Linked DNA regions of Homo sapiens: region 2 is linked to region 1. The links come from fine-mapping of genetic effects on gene expression. A gene starts in region 1. The other region holds a variant in brackets. All regions are shown on one strand. Distances are from middle to middle. Region 1 holds the start of NFE2 (nuclear factor, erythroid 2). Region 2 holds the start of SCAT2 (S-phase cancer associated transcript 2).

Region 1 (10,335 bases):
TCCAGAACCTGACTCTACCTGACTATAATGTCTTCTAGGCACCTTCCCCTCCTGCCCCTGTATCTTCATACTCCAAACCTCTACTGGAAGTCTACATTCATCAGTTCTTTCTGTGGAGTGTCAGTCTCTCTTTCTCCTTCTGGGCAATGTCTCTTTAGAGCCTTGAATATACACTGCCCTCCAGTCCCTTTTCTTTTGACCTGGGTTCTAGTTGCAGCTCTGCCACAAAGCAGCAGTGTGATGTTGGGCAAGCCATCTCACTTCTCTGGGCCTCTGTTTCCTCATTTGTAAAACCAGGGAGTTGGACAAATTGACCTTGGAGGTCCCTTTCTGCTTGGATAGCTTAGAATTCTCAGCAAACCCTCACCCGTGTCTTTATCTTCTTCTGTCAGTCCCTCTCCTCATGCTACCTCCCTATTCCCTGACACCCACCTTCCTTGCATCTGTTTTCCCTGCCGTCAGCAAGAGATTCCAAGTAGATTTGGCAAGGTCTTCCTGATCTCTACGGTCAGACATTGTGTCTATGTGCACGCACACAGACATACCGTGCCATATCAGTATAGGGAAGCAGGCTAGGATGAAGGAAACATGGGAGAGGGGAAGCACTTTGGGAGGCCAAGGTGGAAGGATTGCTTGAGCCCAGGAGTTTGAGATCAGCCTGAGAAACACGGTGAAAACCCATCTCCACTAAAAATGCAGAAATTAGCTAGGCATAATGGCACACATCTGTGGTCCCAGCTACTCAGGAGGCTGAGGTGGGAGGATCACTTGAACCTGAAAGGTCACGGCTGCAGTGAGCCATGATTGTGCCACCGCACTCGAGAGCCTGGGTGACAGAGCAAGACCCTGTCTCAAAAAAAAAAAAAAAAAAAAAAAACGGCCAGGTGCAGTGGCTCACACCTGTAATCCTAGGACTTTGGGAGGCTGAGGCAGGTGGATCACCTGAGGTCAGGAGTTCGAAACCAGCCTGGCCAACATGGTGAAACCCCCATCTCTACTAAAAATACAAGTAATAGCCAGGCTTGGTGGTGGGCGCCTGTAATCCCAGCTACTCAGGAGGCTGAGGCAGGGAGAATTGCTTGAACCCGGGAGGCGGAGGTTGCAGTGAGCTAAGATCGCACCACTGCACTCCAGCCTGGGCGACAGAGTGAGACTCTGTTTCGGAAAAAAAAAAAAAAAAAAAAAAAAAGAAAAGAAAGAAAAAGAAGGACAGAGGATAGGATTGTATGACCTCAAATTGCATGACCTTAGACCACTCACCACAAGGATGGCCCATCACAGCAATTTAATATGGAATCTTCTCTTCGACTTACCACAAAATTAGTAGGAACTACAAATGATCCTTTTGAAAGAGTATCTCCCCTAGCCCTTGCCTCCATCCCCTTGTTTTACTGCCATCCCCAGAGATGGGAGTTGGTGTAGGCAACTCTGCCAGTGGGCAGAGTGGGTGGGGTGTTTATGTCTGTCCAGGATGCCATTTCAACACCGGAACCCCACCCTCCTCCACCCAGGTTCTGGCGGAAATTGCCCAAAGGCAAAGTGAATGGAGAAGGGGTTTAGGAGGCAGAGACAATGACTCTTGCTTCACAGTTCTTTACTCACCCCAATCCCCCCATTTGTCTCTCCTTTTATCTTCTTGGATCTGACTCTAAGGTGCAGTACAAAGATCCTGCCCTAGGAGGCCAGAGACCTAGGTTCTCTGGCACTTAAGATACAAGACCTTGCTACGCACGGTGGCTCACGCCTGTAATCCCAGCACTTTGGGAGGCCAAGATGGGAGGATTACCTGAGGTCGGGAGTTCAAGACCAGCCTGACCAACATGGAGAAACCTTGTCTCTACTATAAATACAAAATTAGCCGGGCATGGTGGCGCATGCCTGTAATCCCAGCTACTTGGGGGGATGAGGTGGGAGAATCGCTTGAACCCAGGAGGCGGAGGTTGTGGTGAGCCAAGATCATGCCATTGCACTCCAGCCTGGGCAACAAGAGTGAAACTCCACATCAAAAAAAAAAAAAAAAAAAAAAAGATACATGACCGTGGGCAAATTGCTTCTCATTCAGTCCCTTCCATTAAATGGAGACAGGACTAGGAACCTAATTGCTATTAAAGGCCATAGGTTGCATCTAGCTCAGGGAGTCACAAACTTCATTGTGTGCCACATTCACCTGGGCTACATGTAAAGACACAGATTCCTAAAAGCCACTTCAAATCTACTGAATTGAATCCATAAACCCAGGAATCAGCATTTTAAAAGTGCCTCAGTGGCCAGGTGTGGTGGCTCACACCTGTAATCCCAGCACTTTGGGAGGCTGAGGTGGGTGGATCACCTGAGGTCAGGAATTTGAGACCAGCCTGGCCAACATGGCAAAACCCCATCTCTACTAAAAATACAAAAATTAGCCAGGTCTGGTGGCGCACACCTGTAATCCCAGCTACTCAGGCGGTTGAGGCATGAGAATTGCTTGAACCTGGGCGGTAGAGGTTACGGTGAGCTGAGATCATGCCACTACACTCCAGCCTGGGCAACAGAGTAAGACTCTGTCTCAAAAAAAAAAAAAAAGAAGGGGAGCAAGGGGAGGCAGGAGTTTGGGGGAGAGAGAGTTGAGGAGAACCTCTGGATCCATTCCAACCAGCTCTTGGGTGCAGTAGCAAGTTTGTACCAGGTGGCAGGTGGAGCAGGATGCTTTTCCCTAGACGCTCAAGGATGGATGGTGTTCTATACACCAGGCATAGGGTCCCTCTGGGTTTCCAGAGCCTACCTTTCAGAGGACAGCAGAGCTGGCAGGCAGTGGGATAGATCAGGGAGATAGATAGAATTGGATCAAATAGAACACCATAGAGGGTATAGAAACTGGGGAGATACTGGGAAAGTGAAGTGGGCTTCCCTGTGTTCCCTTTCTTTTACAATAAGAAGCTCCCACTTTACAGTTTAGCTTTTGCATTTTGGGGTCACACCACCATCTTACTCCCACTGGGTTGTCTGTTCCTTCTCTTACTCCCCAACATTATGGATTAGGTAGAAATGGGGTTGTCACCAGGGACTAAAGTCCATCCTCCTTACTCTTAGCCTGGTGGTCCTACCCAGAAAGATTTTTATCATAATCCCTAAGTACTCACAGAATGATACGGAGCTTCATGATTAGGAATACAGAGTGAGGACTATTCGGAGAGGGATGATGGAGAGAGGAATACATTTGGCCTTAGCTGCTGCCCCAGGGCTCTTAACTTCCTTAACGAGGGGGAACGATGAGAGGGGGCTTGCCTCAGGATCCCTTTTCTGAGGCTTATTTGACCACCTCACCTCTCCAGGTGTCAATAGGTGCAGTGAAAGGATGAGGAGGGATTAGTAAAACTTGGGGTATTGGTTAACCGGTAAGCAACCTATTTAGAAAGATTAGGGAGAACTCCCGAAGAGAGAGAGACACACAGAGATGAGACAGAATGAAGGGGAAAAAAAGGAGGGAGAGAGATTTAAGCATAGTGAGCTCAGTGCCCTAGGGACATGCATGACTCAAACAAATGTGTGAGAACAAAGAAGAGGGGGACGAGTTTCTGCTATTGTGTCACTTCATCCCTGGACCCCAAACTCCAGTCCTTTGGTACCGATGTCTAGGGGATCCCAGCCCCAGCAGTTCTGATACCTCCTCTCTTCTCTTCCACTGCTTCCCAAGCCCCTATTTCCCAAGCAGCCAAGAGTTCCAGTTAGAAGCAACTATGCTGGGGTTGGGATGTCTTCCTTCTCCCTCCAGGTCCAGCTGATCTCTACTGCCCCTGGGCACAGAGAAGAGAAAGGGCAAAGGAGCCAACAACCCAGAGGCAATCTCCCATCCAACCCCCGCACCTTGCAACACTTCTCAGAGGTTCAGATATCCAGTGTTTCCAATTCCTCAGCTTTCCCTAAACCTTCTCAGCTGCCTAGACAGGGCAGAGTAATGGAATGGAGTTGGGGAAAGGGTAGTCTATTGGTTCCCTCAGGGTAGCCCACCAGTTGAAGGATTCCTCCTGGCTACTCCCCAGCCCCTCAGCGGTGCCTTGCCTCTGGAGACCCCTCTCTGATCCCCATTCACAGCCTCCACCCCAAGGATCCCAGAGCACCCAAGAAACCACTTAGGTCTTCTCCTAGAGGAGTTCCCAAATATGTCAGATTCCTAAACCAGGGGCAATCTAGAAAGTCTGAGGTCTCCTAGGATACCGAAAGTTGGTTATTTTCCCCCCTCACCTCCTTCACCCCCCAGCCTGCCCCTCGGATCTCACTGGAATCCGCCCCCCCCACACACACCCTGCCTTTCAGGCACCTGTGGTGGAGTCACAGCAGGGTGAGGAGAGAGATGAGGCTCCCGGTGTTGTCTCTGGGGAGGCTGAGCCTGAGCTGACACTGCTGGACGAGGATCCCGGCTACCTTTGAGAATCTGCGAGGACCGCGCCCCGCCCCCGGGCCATTGCTGAGCGCTGAGTGTGGAAGCTCAGGCTGAGCTGAGCACAGGAGCCCCAAGCAGGCGCACCAGCGTCTGAAGCCCTCGGCCTGAGTTCTCAGTCCTTCCTCCAACCCTCCCCTTTCCCCGTGGCTCTCCTCTCCTCCTGCCCCTTTCGGCCAAGAGAGGAAACTTGAGCCCGATGTGGTTTCTGCCCACACCCCGCCCCCACCTTGCTCCTGGCCAGCGGGGGCACACATGGCTCCAAGCCTCTCCCAGCCCTCCTTTTCAGCCCAGGAGTCCAGCCAGGTCTGCGTTTCTCCCATGCATTTGACGAATTCCAACCTGATGGTCCACTCGAATGTGACCTTTAAACTTTATACAGGTTGTCGTCGCCTTGTGTCCCCACGGCTCTCCTAGGGACAGGGAAACTGAGTCATATCAAGGTGGAAGGCAGCTGAAGGTAAGGACCAGGTGTCTAGCTTCCCAGCTGTCTAGGCAGTTGGACGTTTAGGGTATAGCCTTCATTTACAGAAAACCTGGGCTCTGGGAACAAGGGCAGGGGAACTATTTGGAGGAGGAGGGGCAACTGACTGCTTTGATGTGTCCTTTCACCTGTAGCCTTCTCCCCTCCCCCCTCAGCCTCAGAAGTCCCAGGACAAAGGATTCTTTCTTGGCCAGGTTTTTGTCAGTGTGTGAAGGGAGTTAGGTGGGGGGCCACCCAGCAGGGAGATTATTCACCTCCCGTAAAGGGGACCCCAGGTGTCCTTTGTCCTCCTTTCTCCCAGGCAAAGCACCCCAGCCACATGGCACCCAACTCTGTTAGGCCAGTAAGTACCCTTATTCATCTTTTTTTTTTTTTTTTTCCAGAGAGGGGCTCACTCTGTCTCCCAGGCTGGAGTGCAGTGGTGTGAACATGTTTCACTACAGTCTCAAACTCCCAGGCTTAAGCAATCCTCCCACCTCAGCCTCCCAAGTAGCTGGTTCTATGGGTCAGTGCAACCATGCCCAGCTAATTTTTTTTTTTTTTTTTTTTTTTGGTAGAAGTGGTGTCTCACTATATTGCCTTGGCTGGTATTGAATTCTTGGGCTCAAGCAATCCTCCCCTCTTGGCCTCCCAAAGTGCTGGGATTACAGGCATGAGCCACCTCACCCAGCCCACTTATTCATCTTTTTGCCTGCAAGCTACACCACCAAAGCCCCAGGTCAAACATCTTTCTCCACAGACTGTGAGAAAAGAGCCTTTCTTCCTCCTAATTTGTAATGGCTTTCAGCTCTATATGTCTAGCTTCAATCCTGACATCTGCAGCTTACATTTTTTCTTCTTACAATGTTCAAGTTAAATTAGAAACATCTGAAGACTGGGGAAGCAGATAGGTGCCACTCTGGAGTAGGACTGGCATTCAACCAGCATGCTCTGATGGGATTGTATTTGCTGTTAAAATAATGAAAATGTTCAGTCCTAGTTGATAAAAGGCAGCTGCTGTGAGCCCTCTAAGTGTCCCCCACGACTCCACCAATAGCCTAGTTCTCCTCTAAGATCCCCAACAACCCAGCAACACAACCATGGAAGTAAAGAGGCAATGCTGGTACCATAAGGAGCCTCCTGTGCTGCCTGCTTCTGCTGGAATTGGCCAATGCCCATGCCAAACCTATGGTTAAATGCTTTGAATTCCATCCCTTTTCCAGTAGATCATGACTGCACATGCATGATCAAGGTAAGACAGGAGGCAATCCAATGCCTTCATTACATGTTACATGTGGGTTCAGAATCTCTTCAGACTTGGGCATGAATCTGGGTCACATATGTAGGCTCTCAGATATAATTCTCTCATTTGCATATTTATTTGGGCCACTCAGAGGGGATGAAGAATGGTAACAGTCACACTTGTGGCTGACTATATAATGATATCAGGTTATAGATAGTCAACAAACATTTATTGAATAAGAATTATCAGTTCAGGATACTGGTGTTGCATAGACAATTATGGGTAACACAAGGCTCATCATTCATTCATTCAACAAATATTTATTGAGTGTCTACTATGTTTTACATCCCAGGAACACAAAGATGAGCAAGACAGTCTGTATCTTCAGTCAAGTCTAGTCAGGGAATTACATTAATAAGGTGTATATAATAAAATAAAATAAAATAGGCCAGGCACGGTGGCTCATGCCTGTAATCCCAACACTTTGGGAGGCTGAGGCTGGCAGATCACCTGAGGTCGGGCGTTCGAGACCAGTCTGACCAACATGGTGAAACCCCTTCTCTACTAAAAATACAAAAATTAGCCAGGCGTGGTGGCATGTGCCTGTAATTCCAGCTACTCAGGAGGCTGAGGCAGGAGAATCACTTGAACCCAGGAGGTGGAGGTTGCAGTGAGCTGAGATCGTGCCACTGCACTCCAGCCTGGGCGACAGAGCAAGACTCTATCTAGAAAAAAAAAAAAAATTTGAATTAAAAAAATAAAGGTGTATATACAGTGCTATGGAGAAGAAGAGGAAATAAATTCTGCCCAGTGAAATTCAAGGAAGGCTTTACAGAGGAGGTGACAATTAAGTTAGGCTGTGGAGAAAAACTAGGAATTTCCCAGGCAGAGAAGTGGAAAAGAGTATTCCAAGCAAAGATGTGAAGGCATGGAGGCATAAAATACAGAGCAATACTTTGGGTTTGCTAGGTTGGGGTATGGGATGGGAAGTAGGAGAAGATAAGCCTGGAAAATTTGACAGGGGCTAAATTATACAATGTCTTGAGAGTCAATCTAGGGAGAGTGTACTTTATCCTATAAATAGTAGGGATTCATAGAAGTGTTTGAGGTCATCTACTACTTATTTGAAGGGACAGACATAGTCAAGTAGGGTGTTCTAAGTGAAGAGACAGCCTTCCTTCAATAAGGTGACTGGCTAGGTGGAGATGTCTCTCCCATCTCACCCTCACTCCTCTCCTACAGAAAAAGAGGACTTCACTGTGGTTCTCAGGCTGTGTTCTGGAGGCAGAACACCCTTTACAGCCCTCAAAGGAGGGGATGGTTCCTTTAGCCCCTTCCTCTCAGATTCCTGAAATCCAGACCAAACACCTTTCTACCTTAAGTCTCCTTTGTTTGATTTACAAATTGCAAAACATTAGGAGCCAGCCTGAATGGGTTGGATAGTGCCTAAGACTTGGTAAAGCAGGGATGTCTAAGGTTTTCCTATCCTCAAGATTCTCCCACTTCATCAAAGGTAGCAGAGACAGAATACGATACGGAGAAAACCACGGCCACATATCTTTACTATTTTATCATTCTCCACGTATGCTGCTAACCCACTCCCTAAAAGATTCACTTCTTGTCACACCTGGTCAACCCACCCCTACCCTCACCCTCATAACGTGTGTGTACACCACCAGCAGCAGCAGGTCAAGCCACAAGCAATGTTGCCAAACACCCCACTGAGTTATGCAACCAGCTTCCCGAGAAGGGCGGGGTGGGTAGAGGTGGAACCAGGGGAGGGCCATGGGTCCCAGAGGGAGCTGGCTGCCTTGCCTGCTTGCCTGCTGGTCTGACCGCAGTGGCCCCAGAGGGTGGGGGCAGGGCTGGCCCTTTATCAGTGCCCTGCAGGGTTGCACCCAACACCCCCTGGCTTCCTCTCTCAACAGACGGAAAGGGGAGGCAGCCACAGGGGGCAAGGGGAGGGCTGGGCGTTATCCTAGGCAGCAGAGCCGGGCGGTTACCCCGATGCTTGGGGGAGGTGGTAGAGGGGTCTGGGACCAAGGAATAGCGAGGCCCCTCTTAGCGGGGGGCCCTGGTATACACAGAGGCTCAGATGGTGGACTAGATTTTCTGAAGCATATAACTCATTGTTCCTTGTGTTCCAGTTTGGGTAAGGATAGGATTTAAAAAAGTCTTTGAGGAGGTTTCTTTCCTCAGATAACAATTTTTAGACGATTGACTCAGGAGTTAAGGGGAGACTGAACCCCATTCTCAGGACAAAAGGGTTTGGGGCTTTCAAGGGAGTTAGATACGACTGAGGTTCCCAGACCCTGGCATCTAAGAGTTAATGCCCTTTAGCAGAGCCTAGTACTAACACCAAAATGGATGAAGGCTGATAGATAAACCTAGTATAGTCCCAGAAGAAATAATCCCTGGGGCTTAATTCTACTGTATTTTATTATTATTGTTATTATTATTATTATTATTATTTTGAGATGGAGTCTTGCTCTGTCACCCAGGCCGAAATGCACTGGTGTGATCTCGGCTCACTGCAGCCTCCGCCTCCCGGTTTCAAGCGATTCTCCTGCCTCAGCTTCCCAAGTAGCTGGGATTACAGGCGCCTGCCACCACGCCCAGCTAATTTTTGTATTTTTAGTAGAGATGGGGTTTCACCATGTTGGCCTGGGGCTTAATTCTAAATCTAGAAAGAGAAGTAGTTTCACGGTGCATCATAGATCTTGAGTCTTATTAGTGGGCTTGAGGCTGGGCACAGTGGCTCACACCTCTAATCCCAGCACTTTGGGAGGCTGAGGAAGGAGAATCATTTCAGCCTAGGAGTTTGAGACCAGCCTGGGCAACATAGTGGGACCCTGGTTCTACAAAAAATTAAAAAAAAAATAGCCGGGCATGATGGCATGCACCTGTACTCCTAGCTACTCAGAAGGCTGAGGTGAAAGGATGGCTTGAGCCCAGGAGGTTGAGGCTGCAGTGAGCTGTGATTGTGCCAGTGCACTCCAGCCTGGGTGACAGAGCAAAACCCTGTCTCACAAAAACAAAATAGGCCGGGCGCGGTGGCTCACGCCTGTAACCCCAGCACTTTGGGAGGCTGATGCAAGCGGATCACCTGAGGTCATGAGTTTGAGACCAGCCTGGCCAACGTGGTGAAACCCCGTCTCTACTAAAAATACAAAAATAAGCCGGGTGTAGTGGCACATGCCTGTAATCCCAGCTACTCAGGAGGCTGAGGCAGGAGAATCACTTGAACCTGGGAGACAGAGGTTGCAGTGAGCCGAGATCATGCCACTGCAATCCAGCCTGGGTGACAGAGCGATATTCCATTTCAAAAATAAATAAATAAATAACATATAAAATGAAATAAAAAGACTTGGGGGCTGGGCATGGTGGCTCATGCCTGTAATCTCAGCACTTTGGGAGGCCGAGGCAGGTGGATAACTTGAGGTCAGGAGTTCGAGACCAGCCTGGCCAACATGGCGAAAGCCTGTCTCTACTAAAAATATAAAAATTAGCTGGGTGTGGTGGCGGGCGCCTGTGGTCCCGGCTACTTGGGAGGCTGAGGCAGGAGAATTGCTTGAACCCAAAAGGCGGAGGTTGCAGTGAGCCGAGATCGCACCATTGCACTCTAGCCTGGGCAACAGAGTGAGACTCTGTCTCAAAAAAAAGAAGACTTGGGCTTGGTGTCGAGTGTGGTGGCTTGAACCTGTAGTGCCAGGTACTCAGGAGGCTGAGCTGGGAAGATCACTTGAGCCCAAGAGTTTGAGGTTACAATGAGCTATACTCCAACCACTGTACTCTAGCCTAGGTGACAGAGCAAGACCCTATCTCTAAAAAAACAAACGAAGAAACTTGGGCTTGGGTCCTGGCATTTATTGGCTATGTAGCCTTGGGTAACCCAACTTTTCTGTTTTTTTTGTTTTTTTTTTTTTTGAGAGGGAGTTTTGCTCTTGTTGCCAGGCTGGAGTGCAATGGCATGATCTCAGCTCACTGCAACCTCCACCTCCCAGGTTCAAGCAATTCTCCTGCCTCAGCCTCCTGAGTAGCTGGGATTACAGGCGCATGCCAAGATGCCCAGCTAATTTTCTGTTTTTTTTTCAGTAGAGATGCGGTTTTATCATATTGACCAGGCTGGTCTCTAACGCCCGACCTCAGGTGATCCACCCACCTCAGCCTCCAAAGTGCAGGGATTACAGGTGTGAGCCACCAACCAAGCCC
Region 2 (10,335 bases), 42 kb before region 1:
CCATTGCACACCAGCCTGGGCAATAAGAGCAAAACTCTTGTCTCAAAAAAAGAAAAGAAGTCAAGAAAAAAAATTCCTCACACAGTAACTTTCCCCAAAACCCACAGACCATATAGTTTACCATCCCAGAGGAAATTAACATACCAATATCAAAAGGTGTACCAAGACTATTACACAAGCCGAATACACTTGGGGGTTGGGAAGAATCTGTTGATAGCTAGAAAAGCCAGTCCTATAATGCGATTATCCCTTTTCCTAACACTTTGGTACTGCTGCTTCTACTTCAGTTTCCACCCAAAAGACAACATAGTATGATTTAAAAAGAGCCTGGGTTGGCCAGGAATAGTGATTCACACCTATAATCCCAGCACTTCAAGAGGCCAAGGCAGGCAGATCGCTTGAACCCAAGAGAGCGAGACCAGCCTGGGTAACACAGTGAGACCCTGTCTCTATTTTGAAGATAAAAAAGCAGGGCGTGGTGGCTCACGCCTGTAATCCCAACACTTTGGGAGGCTGAGGTGGGCGAATCACAAGGTCAGGAGTTCGAGACCAGCCTGGCCAACATGGTGAAATGCTGTCTCTACTAAAAATACAAAAAGTTAGCTGGGCGTGGTGGCAGGCACCTGTAATCCCAGCTACTCGGGAGGCTGAGGCAGGAGAATCGCTTGAACCCGGGAGGCGGAGGTTGCAGTGAGCTGAGATCGCGCCACTGAGCTCCAGCGTGGGCGATAGTGAGAGACTCTGTCTCAAAAAAAAAAAAAAAAAAAGATAAAAATATGTAAAAATTTAAATTAAAAAAAGAATTAAAGTTTTGAAAGAGGCAAGGGTCTTGCTATGTTAACCAGACAGGAGTGCAGTGGCTATTCACAGGTACGATCCTACTAATGCTCAAAATGGGAGTTCTGACCTGCTCTGGTTCACTCCTACTTAGGCAACCTGGTGGTCCCTCACTCCTGGGAGGTCACTATATTGATGCCAAACTTAATGCAGACACCTGATCGGTTTAGTGCACTACAGCCCAAAACTCCTGGACTCAAGCAATCCTCCCACTTCAACCTCCCTAGTAGCTGGGACCACGGGTACATACCACCATGCCTGGACTCTAAATGCTTTTGTGAGAATCGAAGAGAGCACAAGAGGTAGAATTTGATCACTGTCTAGCACAAAGTAGGCATTTAGTTATAGACAATGCTGATTTGTTCCAGTCTTTTATGAAATCCAGGGCATTTCTGAAAAAGGACCAATGTTTACTTTGTCTACCCCAAACCTTACCTTTTCCCCTTTCATCTATGGTAAGGTACCAGTAGCTCAATGACAGAGAAAGAGTTTCAAGTATCTTTCAAACACCCAAATATTTCCAGTGGAAATGGGCCCAATAAACATCTTCAAAATCTTCTGGTGTTACTTTAGTTCCTATCTGTTAGTGCTCTAGAGGTCTCTCAAACTTTAACAGTTCTCATCTCTAGTGGAAGCTGTGATACCACTCCTCTCTACAAACAGAGGGCATCTTCTGATTGTTGTGCTACCCATACTTGCACTCTGGGTGCTAGAGATGCTAAGCATCCTGCAATGCATGAATGATCCCACCTACAACGCCAATAATTCTCCAGATGAGAAACCTTGAGTCATGTAATGAAATAACCTCCAGTATGTTTCAAAGGTTCTTGACACATAGCCTTTATCCAAAAGTATTGGTAAACCACTGTATCTTTTAGTGTATTTAGGTCCTAGACTGCAGGAGCTGTGCCATCCAATATGGTAACCACTAGCCACATGTGCCTATTTGAAATGCAGCTAGTTTGAATGGAGATGCACTATAAAGTATAAAATACATCCCAGATTTTCAAGTCTTAGCACACACACACACACAAATTTCATTAATAACTTTTGTACTGATTAACGCTGAAATAGTATTTTTCACGTATTAGGTTAAATAAAATATTATTAAAATTAATTTCACAGCCAGGCACGGTGGCTCACGGCTGTAATCCCAGCACTTTGGGAGGCCAAGGCAGGTGGCTCACTTGAGCCTGGAAGTTCGAGACCAGCCTGAGTAACATGACAAAACCCTGCCTCTACTAAAAACACAGTCACCCAGGCTGGAGTGCAGTGGCGCAATCTTGGCTCACTGCAACCTCCGCCTCCTAGGTTCAAGTGATTCTCCTACCTCAGCCTCTGGAGTAGCTGGGATTACAGGGACCTGCCACCACACTTAATTTTTTTATTTTTAGTAGATGGAGTTTCACCATGTTGGCCAGGCTGGTCTCAAACTCCTGACCTCAGGTGATCCACCCGCCTCAGCCTCCCAAAGTGCTGAGATTAGAGTGCAAGCCACCACGCCTGGCCTTATAAGCACTACTGCTTATCCTTATTTCACTGAGGAGATAAAATGATTAAGGAAATTAGCCAAGGCCATCCAGTTTGTATCATAAGTGGTGGAGTTAGAATCTAGACCCAAGCAATCTGACTCTCGAGTCTGTGCTCCTAACCAATTCATTATACTGCCTTTCAAAAGCAGTATCATTAGAACGTAAGCTCCACAAGCGGAGAGATTTTGTTTTCTTTACTGCTGTGTCTTCTAACTCTTAGGAAGAGTGCAGGAGGGGGAAGAAAAAGACAAAAATGCTTGTGATTCCTAAGGAAGTAAACCAAAGGTATCTATCTCTACAGAGTCCCAACGCCTGGGGGAAAAAAGGAACTTACTCAGAAAAGCCTTTCCACTTCAGTAGATATTCCACTTGTCCCTTAACCACGCGCCTGTCTAGCACCTTCTCCACAACATACTCCTCCTCATCCTCTGAAGAAGAACTGTCAGCTGTCCGCTTGGTTTTCTTTCCCATGTCGCACACCGTTCCACCTGAAAGACTAAGGCCACCAGGTCCCTGCAAAGGCAAAGGACAAAATGGTTAGAATCCATGTGAGGAGTTAAAAACTTTGTCTTTTCTTGATGGGATGAAAAGGGGATAACACTGAGTTGCCATGTGCCCTGCTCTTGAGTCTCAAATCATTCTACAGATGAGTCCTAAGAGTTTAATTTAAAAATGAATCAGTCTTCACTTCCTCAACTACAACCTCCTCTTCGGCTAAAGAGACCAAAATTATTAGAAGGCACAACTGTTTAACTCTTCTATTTCAGATTCCAAAAGACAAGTAGTGTGGTATGTTATTCCTGGCTATGTTTGTAACTGTTTACAAGCCAGGAACTCAAACAGAAATGTGCAAAATCTTTAGTTAAATGAACCAAGATAAAATTAAAACCTTTTTCTCCAAGGTGAATAAGCGTCTTTATAAAAATGAAAAAAGAAAAGCCACTAAAATATGAGTTTTCTGTGCTCTGAGCATCTTGCCCAGTCTCTTAGCAGCACACAAAAAAGGCTTGCTTAGGCACCTTTCACCACATTTTCAGTGACTTGGTACATTTCCCTTAAACAAATTGAGCTTGTCCCTTCAGAGCATCCATCAGCTCACAAAAGCAAGGCTGACATCTCAAACACACTAATCTTCCTTTTTAGAAAGCTAATTTGGGGATGGGAGGGAGGCAGAAAGGAGAAAAAATTTTTCAGTCCTAAAATTCAAAATTAGTCACTAGATTATTCAGTAATTCCCAAGATGCAACTAACCCAAATAGTTAAGAAGGTACCTCTCCCTCTTAACTGAAGTTGACTCAGGGCCAAAGGAAGAGGAGGAGGAAAAAGAAGTCTGGCCCCAGACTCAGCATCAACATGAAGCCTCCTCAAAATACAGAGGAACCATTCATAGGCCCAAGGAAAGCTGAAGCAAGGAAACACAAATGGAAATTGAGTTAAGCTCAGAAATATGCACACCAGGGGGTACTCAACAGAGAATCTAGTTTTAAAAATTCCCATGTTGTTGTTCCATAATCATTTTTAAGAATTCTTCCTTAACCATGCTAAATGGTGCCTACAGTCTGGATTACAGAGTAGCAGAAATTGTTTTCTTAGCTGAACTCCATTATTATTTTCCTGTAATCTTTAAAGATGTTTATCAGCACCCTCTAAATATTTCCACCCTGACCAGAAAACCACTGGGTCAGGGAGGGCCCACTACTAACCTCAGAATGATGTTCAAGTCACATAAAAAGTGGCAATTATCAATTCACTTCAAATTAGCAAAATTTTAAAAATTATTACAAGAATATATAGT[T/TG]GGAGACCATATCTCCAGAACTTATTAGCTATAGGTCTGCCCACCTAAAAAACTGCCTATACCCATTACTGCCCTATAAGACTAAGTTTTTATTAAAATACTCTATTTGGAAGAGGAAGTAGTAGCAAAATGTAGGTGCGGGGGGGTTAAAATAATTTTTCCATGAATTTAGAAGAGTCCTAAGCTTCAAGAAAATATCTTATGTGCTTTATTTAAAATAAAACAGCCTCCAACCTCACCAGAGACAGGAAATGTCATATTCCAGGGAGAGTACCCCACCCCCACCACCACTCACCTTGGAATTTCCGGGAGCTGAGCAGTTTAGGTCAGAGCGCTGGGGTTAAAACCAGCCCCATGTTAGATGCATGCAGTTAAGCATTGTGGCTATGGCCTCCCCTGCCTCACCAGGAAAAACAAGGATTTACATGTGTTCTTCATTTTGAGGGAGAGACAAGGAAAATCTCCCTTTATACCTTCATGCAGAAGAGGAGCCCCAAAGGTAGAAAATGAATGGGGGTTCCCTCCTTTACCTACCGGATCGCCCCAGTTCTTTCTTTCCCTCTGGGCTAACAGGAGGGGCCTCCCCTCCCAGGTCTGGGTCTTGGCGGGCTGGCAGCTCCCCTGCCCCCACCCAGCTGCCTGGGCGCCACTGCGCAGCTGTCCCAGTCCGTTGCCATAGCAACTGGCAGCAGTACTACACTAAGGGGGAGAAGCAAATGGAAAAGTTAAAAGGCTTAACTTTCCTTTTCAGTGAAGACTGGGTGGAGAAATTGGAAGGTACCTCTCTTGGCCTCAAGGCTAAGGCATTCAGAGCTTAAGGGAATTACTTCTTAGGTTTTAAATCCAGTATTTATGCTTATTCCTCTAACAGCACTGTGAATTAATCAATAACATTTTAAGATCATCTAACAAGATTACAGCTCAACTGAAGGGGGAGGGGAAAGGCTCGATCCTTCTACAACACGATCAGTACAAACCACCCATCACTTAATCCAGCCCACCAGAGCACTTTGGGCAATCCCATTTTACCGTCTGTCACAGAACAGTTAATTAAAATTGCTTGAGGGGAAAAATAACAGGAAACAGGGGAGGGGAAGTATTTTAAAGACACTATATAACTTTCCTTCTTTGGGGGGATTACTAGAGACAAAATCCAAAGACATGAAGCACTACCAAAACAACAACCAAAAAAAAAAAAAAAAAAAACCCCTTTTAACTAAAATTAGAGGTGGAGGGCCAGGTGCAGTGGCTCATGCCTGTAATCCCAGAACTTTGGGAGGCCGGGACGGGGCAATCATTTGAGGTCACGTGCTCAAGACTAGCCTGACCAACGTGGTGAAACCCCGTCTCTACTAAAAATACAAAAAAATTAGCCAGGTGTGGTGGCAGGCGCATATAGTCCCAGCTCCTCAGGGGGCTGAGGGAGGAGAAATCGCTTGAACCCAGGAGGCAGAGGTTGCAGTGAGCCTAGATCGCACCACTGCACTCCAGCCTGGGCGACAAGAGTGAGACTGTCTCGAAAAAATAAAACAAAATGAATTTAGGTGGAAAAAAATTCCTAAGAAGCTTAAAAAAAAAAAAGAGGAGAGCAGTTCTGCCACAACCTAATGGTTGATAAATTTAAACCACTTATAGGTTGCTCTATAATGTTATAAAACAGATTTTTAAATAATTATTCATCACCTGATACATTATTAATATACAACTCTCTGTATCAGTATGTCTCAATACTTGAGAAAAGGAGTACTAGGATAAATAAAAAAGATATATAGAGACTTGAAATACTGTAAGTTTTCCATTCTTCTGGCTCTAAAGAACATTTTAGAGAGCTCCAAAACTCTACTCTGCTTTATAGATGTGGGAACTTTAAAGCCAGAAGTGGCTGCCATAGGAGAGTAAGAAAAAGGGACAATCAAAAGCAAAGAACTCAGTTGAGCCAGGAACAGTGGCTCACACCTGTAATCCCAGCACTTTGGGAAGCCGAGGCAGGTGGATTACCTGAGGTCAGGAGTTCGAGACCAGCCTGACCAACATGGTGACGCCCCATCTCTACTAAAAATGCAAAAATTAGCCAGACATAGTAGCACTTGCCTGTAATCCCAGCTACTTGGGAGGCTAAGGCAGGAGAATCGCTTGAACCTGGGAGGCAGAGGTTGCAGTGAGCCGAGACTGCGCCACTGCACTCCAGCCTGAGCAACAAGAGCGAAACCGTCTCAAAAAAAAAAAAAAAAGAACTCAGTTGAGAAGAAGCACAATGGTGACTATTACGACTGTCAAACAGAAGAAACCATAGGGTGTAAGACCAAAGTAGAAATTTTTTTCTTTTTTCTTTTTTTTTTTTGAGACGGAGTCTCGCTCTGTCACCAGGCTAGAGTGCTGTGGCGCCATCTCGGCTTACTGCAACCTCCAACTCCCTGGTTCAAGGGATTCTCCTGCCTCAGCCTCCCAAGTAGCTGGGATTACAGGCATGTGCCACCACGCCCAGCTAATTTTTGTATTTTTAGCAGAGATGGGGTTTCATCATGTTGGCCAGGATGGTCTCGATTTCCTCATCTTGTGATCCGCCCACCTGGGCCTCCCAAAGTGCTGGGATTACAGGCATGAGACACTGCACCCGGCCAGAAATTTTTTAATTACAAAAGATTTCCTCAGATTTGAATGGACCATCAGCAAACCTCCAATTAAAAACGGCATTTTTCAACTCTTACCTTTTAACTTTTCATAATTAAGGGATATAAAAACAATAACAAACATTTAAATAGGATCCTGACTCTGATTAACTTGCCATGTGTTATCCTGAGTAAATAAATTTTCCATCTAACCCCGGCATCATTTAAACGGGCTAAATAAATCTGTACTACCTGCCCTACGTACCTCCGAGGGAAAAAGTGAGTTTATGTTGAAACCAAAGATCTATTAAGTCCCCCAAAAAGAACCTTCTGTAAAAATATGTCAGGGCTGAATACAACAGCAGAAGAAAATATGTGACCTTCCAAATTCCTAAGCTAGTAAACCATATCACATGCAGTAACTCCTGCAGCTCAACACATTAGTAGATAGCAAGAAAAAGAGGAACAGTGTCTTTGTTAACTAGGCACTGGAAAACGAATAAACCTTCAGAGAACAGGGTAGGTACGTTCTCTCTCAAGGGCAAAATACTTATTCCTTAAAACTCAGACAAACTTTAAAGATGGCAGAATGAAAAGACTAATAGTAACTCTGTGAAGGAATAAGGAACAGGAGAGAATGACAGCAATACTAACATTTTGGTGAAACCTTTCAGAGAAAGAAAAGTGAATTTAATGAGGAAAGAGACAAAAATATTCTGGTGTCCACCCCTCCCCACAAAACATCAGAAAATAAAGATTGAGTTCAATTCCCTCCTTTCCACCCTTAAGAACTGCCTAAAGGGCACATGGGCCGAGGTCCTTTTCTTTTTGGGAAATGGGTTTTGTAACCACTGACAAATCGAATTGGGCCTGATGCCAGGAGTCAGAGTACAACCATAATATTCTTTAAAGGATGGCATGCAATTGTCTTGTAAATCTCCTAGACAGTCACAGATCAGAAGCTGGCAAGGATGACGACATAGTTCTGATGGAATGTGTCTTATCTTAACCTTGAAGTTACAGATCTGCTCAGGAGCAGCAGTAAGAAATGAGAAATGCACTCAGACATCGGAGGGGACATAATTCTCTTTTAGACAGTGTGACCCGGAGTATTAGGGTCAAATGAAACACAAAGCCAGTCAAACAATTTAAGGGCTAGAGCCTAGACCAGATAAAGCATCAAGACTGGTGGTTCACACTGAGCTTAGGAGGAGGGAGCTTTCCAGCATGAGAAATGAGACATGGCTGGCAGGATGATGGAGTGATTAAGATAGAATCCCAATACCATGACAGAGGAAAAGAAGATGAGCCTCTGAACACAACCTTATCCTTGTGGAAATCTCCAAGGGAAAGGGTGAGTAGCTTCTCAAATTTCTGGAGTCTTTCAGGCATAACAGCTCTCAGCCTTCTCTCTTAAATATACATAGGAACTATCTGGTAAAGCTACCAATAACTATAGATTACAGCACCTAAGGCCCATTGAGATGAGAAAAGAGGCTGGGCGCGGTGGCTCACGCCTGTAATCCCAGCACTTTGGTAGGCCGAGGCGGGCAGATCTCCTGAGGTCAGGAGTTCCAGACCAACCTGGCCAACATGGTGAAACCCTGTCTCTACTAAAAATACAAAAATTAGCCAGGTGTGGTGGCAGGCACCTGTTATCTCAGCTACTTGGGAGGCTGAGGCAGGAGAATCACTTGAACCCAGAAGATGGAGGTTGCAGTGAGCCGAGATCAAGCCATTGCACTCCAGCCTGGACAACAAGGGCAAAACTCCGTCTCAAAAAAAAACCAAACAAAAAACTTATCAGTCCTCAGCAATTACAGAGAGGGCATCACAAGCAAGCTAGGGCAACCCAGAAAAACAAGAGGTAGGCCGGCACAGCGGCTCTCGCCTGTAATCCCAGCACTTTGGGAAGCCAAGGCAGGTGGATCATGAGGTCAGGAGTTTGAGACCAGCCTGGCCAACATGGTGAAACCCCGTCTCTACTAAAGACACAAAAAAATTAGTCAGGCGTGGTGTAATCCCAGCTACTCGGGAGGCTGAGGCAGTTACGCACCTGTAATCCCAGCTACTCAGGAGGGTGAGGCAGGAGAATCGCTTAAACGGGAGGCGGAGGTTGCAGTGAGCTGAGATCGCGCCACTGCACTCCAGCCTGGGCAACAGGGTAAGACTCTATCTCAAAAAAAAAAAAAAAAAAAAAGAAAAGAAAAAAGAAAAAAAAAGGCCAGGCGCAGTGGCTCACGAGGTCAGGAGATTGAGACCATCCTGGCTAACATGGTGAAACCCTGTCTCTACTAAAAATACAAAAAATTAGCCAGATGTGGTGGCGGGAGCCTGTAGTCCCAGCTACTGGGGAGGCTGAGGCAAAAGAATGGTGTGAACCCAGGAGGCGGGGCTTGCAGTGAGCCGAGATCGCACCACTGCACTCCAGCCTGGGAGACAGCGTGAGACTCCGTCTCAAATAAAAAAGAGGTAATGGTTAGCCCTCAGCATTGACCGTTTAATGCTGGAAGAACCCACATAGGGTCCCTGGTATCTGTCTGCTTTGTCCAGTTCAGGTTCTACTCTCATCCCTCCAGTCATTTCTTTTTTGAGACAGGGCCTCGTTCTGTTGTTCAGGCTGCAGTGCAGTGGTGCGGACAGTTTATTGCAGTCTCAAACTCCTGGGCTCAAGCAATCCTCTCACCTTGGCCTTCTGAGCAGCTGGGACCACAGGGGCACGCCACCATGCCTGGCTACATTTTTTTATTTTTTGGTGAGATGCAGTCTCACTGTGTTGCCCAAGCTGGTCTCAAACTTCTGGGCTGAAGCAATCCTCCTGCCTTACCCCCACAAAGCAGTCACTACTTCTCAATACCAATTCTGGTGGCTTTTCTTATCTTGTTATAGTCATTTCATTTTCATCACCACTTATGAGCAAAAGTACACATAATTCTAGATCTTTCACTAAGCTTTCTTCTTATTAAGAATGAAAGCCAGCCGGGCGCAGTGGCTCATGCCTGTAATCCCAGCACTTTGGGAGGCCAAGGTGGGTGGATCACCTGAGGTCGGGAGTTTGAGACCAGGCTGGCCAACATGGCGAAACCCCATCTCTACTAAAAATACAAAAATTAGCCAGGTGTGGTGGCAGGTGCCTGTAATCCCAGCTACTGGGGAGGCTGAGGTAGGAGAATCGCTTGAATCTGGGAGGTAGAGGTTGCAGTGAGCCAAGATTGCGCCACTGCACTCTAGCCTGGGAGACAAGAGTGAAACTCCATCTCAAAGAAAAAAAAAAAGAAAAAGAAAGCCAATTGGTAAGCTGCCTCACTGAACTACCCACTGAATTAAAGATGGTAATCAAACCAAATGTCAAGATGCATAATCAATGAGCTCTCCATTGTAGAGTTTCAACATAAATTCTATAAGCCCCCTAACTAAGCAAAATCCTTTAGGAAGTAAGCCAGGGTTAAAGAGCAGAGGAGAGCGCATATGCAAAGCTCCCTATCACATGGATTAATTAGATATGCCATTGATGAGTGGTTGCAGTTGGCCCAGACTTGCACGATTCCCACTTCTCCTTAAG

What was found. PIP is the estimated chance that this variant, and not a neighbour inherited with it, causes the effect. A credible set is the group of variants that fine-mapping cannot tell apart.
Region 2: its variant is the best candidate, but not a certain one, in a credible set for the expression of NFE2 in blood mononuclear cells (TOPMed, PIP 0.63).

The regions. Positions count from the first base shown.
Region 1 is chr12:54,296,504-54,306,838 of GRCh38, forward strand. NFE2 (nuclear factor, erythroid 2) reads right to left here and starts at 4,512. Exons shown (of 3, transcript NM_001136023.3): 1 at 4,298-4,512. RefSeq lists cis regulatory regions at 4,284-5,258, 7,058-7,558, 7,738-8,258 and an enhancer at 4,659-5,399.
Region 2 is chr12:54,254,811-54,265,145 of GRCh38, forward strand. CBX5 (chromobox 5) reads right to left here. Exons shown (of 5, transcript NM_012117.3): 2 at 2,704-2,882. The coding sequence starts at 2,840. It overlaps SCAT2 (S-phase cancer associated transcript 2), which reads left to right and starts at 7,805. Exons shown (of 2, transcript NR_157844.1): 1 at 7,805-8,127. It also overlaps the pseudogene RN7SL390P. RefSeq lists enhancers at 1,653-2,314, 4,508-4,677. The variant T/TG (reference allele first, on the strand shown) is at 4,165.